Regions from separate parts of the Homo sapiens genome. Here region 1 is linked to region 2. The links come from fine-mapping of genetic effects on gene expression. A gene starts in region 2. The other region holds a variant in brackets. All regions are shown on one strand. Distances are between the middles of the regions.

Region 1 (2,500 bases), 22 kb before region 2:
CAAGGGGCCTGCTCCATCCCCTTCCCACCAGCTTGCGAGCTTATCAAACCCACAATTTGGGAGAAGGTCCTGCCACTACCTAACTTCACAGAAGGCAGAGGACAATGAGTCTGAGTGAAGATGCTGGAGTCAGCCAGGCCTGGATTCCAATCCCAGCTCCGCCACTGACAGGCCCGGTGACCTCGGTCAACACAAGCAGGCTCTGCTGCCTCCCACCTCCAAGCCTCAGTTTCCTTCTCTAGGAAAGGGGATAATACACGCTTGCGTTGGGGGAAAGGTGGTTAAAAAGGAGGCTTATAAAGATTAAATGACGGCCAGGTGCAGTGGCTCATACCTGCATATAATCCCAGTACTTTGGGAAGCCGAGGTGGGAGGACTGCTTGAAGCCAGGAGTTCAAGACCAACCTGGCCAACATAGTAAGACCCCATCTCTAAAAAAAAAAAAAAATCATGAAATGAGATGACAGAGGCTGTCAACAGATGGCCAGAAATACTCCCAAGGCCCTGTGTCTGGAGCATGTGGTTCCCCTGTGCTTACAGGGGCCCTGGGACCATGCTCAGAGCCCACAGTGATGGAATGAGCCTCTCAGGCCCCAGCAGCCCACTGAGCTCTCACTGCAAAAGGTAGGCATGGGGCCGAGTGCAGGGGCTCACACCTGTAATCCCAGCACTTTGGGAGGCCAAGGGAGGCCAAGGCGGGTGGATCACCTGAGGACAGGAGTTTGAGACCGGCCTGGCCAACATGGTGAAACACCGTCTCTACTAAAAATACAAAAATTAGCCGGGCATGGTGGTAGGTGCCTGTAACCCCAGCTACTCGGGAAGCTGAGGCAGGAAAATCACTTAAACTCGGGAGGCGGAGGTTGCAGTGAGCCGAGATTGCGCCATTGCACTACAGCCTGGGTGACAAGAGTGAAACTCTGTCTCAAAAAAAAAAAAAAAAAAAAGATAGGCATGGCAGGGGAACCTCTACAGCCAGGAGGGCCTAAGCTTGGCTCTGGAAAGA[C/A]CTTTGTCCTTTGCTCACTCTCCTCGTCCTTACAGGCTCATACCCCAGATGAGGGAGCTGACTCTCACTGTCGCCGGAAGTCCCACCTGCCAGAAGGCGTAGAACAACATGGTTCTGCCTGGCACTGCGTGCTGAAGAAATACCCCTGGATCATTATCATCCCCCTCAGATGGCTCGCTGCAAGATCTACCATCAAAGGTAAACAAGTCCTTATCTTCTTGCTAATTGGTTCGAATCGATTGACTTTATAAGTGGGTCTAATGTGCAACTGGTGAGAGATGGCCTATGTGCCGAGCAACCCATGCACTTAACTAGCTGTCGCTCAAGCACGGAACAAGGCATATTAACCCAAATTTCTCAGACCGCCTTCTCCTGAGAGGCTGCAGAGCCAGCGTCTCCCCTGTTGGGCTCATATTTGCTGGGTCAACAGGCCCGCTTAGAGGCACCTGGATGCTGTTAGGCGGGTGGCGATAACACTGGTGTAGGTTCCTTGGCGAGGTGAGGGCGTGCTGAGCCTGTGACAAGCATCCCTGGGCCCTGCCCTGCCCTGGCTCAGGCTGCCTGGCAGGAGAAGGGACTGAATCCCAAGTGTTGGCAGGGGAGGAGCAGGAAGGCAATTTTCCCGGTACTCTCATCATCTGCCTTCCATGTGCCTTTTGATGTGTTTCCTTACTCGGCTTTCTCCCAGGAAAGCTTGAATCTGTCTCATTGAACCCATCTCTGAGGCCAGGTCACTGCTGCTTTCCAGGTGAGAGCTGATGTTCAGTCTTTTATCACTGCCAGTGTCTGAAATAGTCCAGAAACTGGTAAAGACAACAGACACCAGGAGATGACCTAAAAATCTTGGGCAGAGTACGGGTGAACAGCAGCTCTCCCCACCTCCCCTCCCCCCCGGCCCAAGGTCCCCCTGCAGAGGGCTGGCTGCTGCCCTCCCCCTGAGAAGCGGCCAGCTACCCCCAACTTTTTTCTGCTCTATTAATAAACCTCAGCTGAGATCCTTGTGACCCCCCTCTTCCGGATGTGATCCTCGCTGCCTTGCCTTATCAGCCTTGCTTTTCACAAGCTCTTAAATTCATGAGAAAAGGGAAAAAGTGAAATCAGATAGAAATGCAGGTCTGTTTGCTGTTTTCTCCAATGAAATGGTTCTGGGTAAACAGCAGACGCCTTTGATGAAATCCCAGCAGGCTTAAACAATAAAGCTGGTTACAAACTCAATCTGGCGGAGATATCAGATCTGAAATTGTTTCAAAAAACATGTCAACATTTTCTAATGCTCCTAAAAAAAACCTTCCTGGGCTGCCCACTGTGGAGTCTGGGTCTCGGAGACAGGACGGGGGCCACCCCAGCCTCTGCCCAGGCCAGCTGGGACTCTGTGCACAAAGAACCCAGGAGCAGGCTATTCCTGGTTGCTGGGGGCCCTGCCAGCTGCAGATGTGTAAATGGCCACTTCAGTCATAACCCAAGCCAGGCAGGGGACCAGCCACCCTTGTGTAC
Region 2 (2,500 bases):
GGTTGCATACAGGGCTGCGGTGAGAGACGGAGTCTGGCAGCGTGTGATGAGAGACAGAGAGACGCAGCGTGTGGCATGCGGCACATGCCAGCGACAGGCGGCAGCAGGCGGGCAGGCGGGAGGCCGGGCTGCAGCGCCAGAGCATAGCCATTGTCCCCAGCGTCCGGCCTGCCCAGGTGCCCCTCACTGGCCATCAAGTGACCTCCCTCGGCCCTGCCTCCCCTGAGGCTGGCCAGCTGTAGACCCCAGGCCCACCTCCACACGTGCTCCTTCCTTCTCCCAGCTTGCTCAGACAAGCCCATGAATAGAACATTAAAGGCAAAACCTTCTAAAAGGAAAAGCAGCTCCCTGGTAGGAGTCACCCCACTAAATGTCAAATGCAGAGCAAGGCTTCTTGCCTTGTGCGCTTCTCACTCATGGAGTCACCTTAGCCTCCATATCCCCATCATCCTATCGCCGTATAAATAAATCATGGTCAGAAGAATGCCAATTTCCCCCCAGGGCCTCATGAATCTCTCAACATAAGCATATGTAAAGGCCCCCTTCACTGCGTGCTGGTCCTGGTGCCCAGAAAGAGATAGCAAATCCTGTGGGGATGATTTTGGAGGCAGAAGCAAACTTTCTACCACCTCAGTGGGCTGAAAGTTGGGAGCCCAGCTTTTGTCCTGATTTGGGAAAGACCCTTGCTCACGTAGTTGTCACCATGATGCCACTACCCTCTGGAATCAACTCAGTGAGCTGCCAAGTGGCCCATCGCTGGGGGCTGCAGTGGTCTGTCCCCTGGCAGACATGTCACGAGTCGTGCCCACCCACCCCCTGTGAGGGCGAGCCACACACCCACTCAGCAAGTGTTGTTCCTGACATGTGGCACACACAGCGCTGGCCTGCCCACTCCTGGGAGCCCCTGCCCCCACTGACTGGCTCACCATCGTGCCACGGCACCGAGCCCTGCCAGTGGACCAATGGTGTGGGTGCCAGCAGAGGCTCTGGTGCACTAGGGTGTCCTGCTCTGCAACAGTGACCTCTGCCACACACACTACAGGGAGCCTGTTGCATGCTTTGCCAGGTGTGTTTCTGTACATACACACACACACACACACACACACGCACACACACTATGGTACCAACTCTTTTGCTGTGCCAGCACAGAGGTCTCCAGAGCGACTCTCCTGAATCAGATAGCAGGGGCTGTTTGCAGTTTCGTTTCCACGCTTCGCTGACTGGTTAGACAGTGATCACAGGTTCGGAAGCACGAGCCTCACCACAGCGGAGGAGGCCTCCACTCTGAAGCGGGATTCCACGCTCCTGCACCCTAAGATCAGCTAGACTCTCTGCCTTGTTTCATCTTCTTTCTTTTCCTAAAGAATCACGGGGAGAACTGACCTCTCTGGGACTCAACCGTGGCTGGAAGGGGACAGGAGAAGCCCTTTCTGGAGGACAGCTGAGCCCTGCAGCTGCCATCCTGCCTGGCAGGCTAGGGCTGGGCTGCGGGAAGGCCCCCCAGGAGGTAGGGAGCACTACAAGGCAAGAGGGGCAGGTATAGGTGGTGGAGCCAGTGTGTTCCGGGGCTGTGCTAGCAAGTCCATCAGGTCACCCTGGAGGGAAGCCAGGGAGAGCAAACCATGGGGAGGGCTGAGATCCCAAGCAGAGCACAGCCCCCCAATAATCCATGGCCCTGGGCCCTCCTCAGGGGCGTGAAAGCAGGCAGGAGGGTTCCTGGCCCACTGTCCCATCTCTGTCCCCAAGGAAGAAACCAGGGCAGGAGACAGAGGTGAGGACTGTGTCTTCCAGACACCGGGGGAGAGGGAGTAGGAGAGGACATATGAGACAGCAGCTCAGGCCCCAGGAGTCCCAGATCCCAGCCAGAGAGGCTCCTGAGGAACCGCAGAGGGGAGTGCATAGGAACCACCAGCAAGCTCTGCGAGAAGCCAGAAATGAATCAGCAGCGCCCAGCGCCCCACAAAACAAATGTCAGAGAAATCAAGACAGATGGGCACGTGAGACAGTGGAGCACAGAGGTCCAGAGGGCAAGGGAGACGGTGGGCTTGACAGACAGAGCGGGGGCTGCATCCTGACTCAGCAGTGCGCCGGCTGGGTGGCCCAGGGAAAGGGACTCCAGCTAGCTATGCCTCAGTTTCCTCATCTGACACGGAGGAATGAGCACAGACGGATCCTGCAGGGTGGGGGTGGAGGTGGCATGAGATAAGGCGTGGAGCACACTCAGTGAGGCTGTAACAAGTGCTCAGTAAACACAAGCGGCTATTGGCAGCATGTGGACAGTGACGGGCAGGTGGGGAAGAGCAGGTTATTGCCTGCTGCCTGTTTCCAGCTAGCATCCATGTCTCCTCCCAGCAGGCTTGGCTGGGCATGCTCTGTGAAGCCCGAGGTGGCTGGGACTCATTCTAGTGATGGACACCAAGTCAGCGGGCTCCTCTCTCCAGTTCCTCGACATCCCTGGAGGCCCCTCTGCTCCTGCAGCCCTAGCCTTGGAGCTGATGGT

Direction of the effects. Alleles are on the strand shown, and positions count from the first base shown. SD is a standard deviation of normalised expression in the study named.
For the expression in liver of the gene that starts at base 1,116 in region 2, A is the low allele of the variant in region 1 and C is the other (small effect, 0.30 SD a copy in GTEx).

The links.
Region 1: its variant is fine-mapped to the expression of RTN4RL1-AS1 in liver (GTEx, PIP above 0.99).

What each region holds. Positions count from the first base shown.
Region 1 is chr17:1,994,500-1,996,999 of GRCh38, forward strand. All of the region lies in intron 1 of RTN4RL1 (reticulon 4 receptor like 1), which reads right to left. Among named protein-coding and RNA genes, the nearest start is that of RTN4RL1-AS1, 22 kb to the right of the region's middle. The variant C/A (reference allele first, on the strand shown) is at 1,007.
Region 2 is chr17:2,016,601-2,019,100 of GRCh38, forward strand. RTN4RL1-AS1 (RTN4RL1 antisense RNA 1) reads left to right here and starts at 1,116. Exons shown (of 2, transcript NR_135642.1): 1 at 1,116-1,507. All of the region lies in intron 1 of RTN4RL1 (reticulon 4 receptor like 1), which reads right to left. All of the region lies in intron 1 of LOC105371486 (a long non-coding RNA gene), which reads right to left. RefSeq lists an enhancer at 1,713-1,822.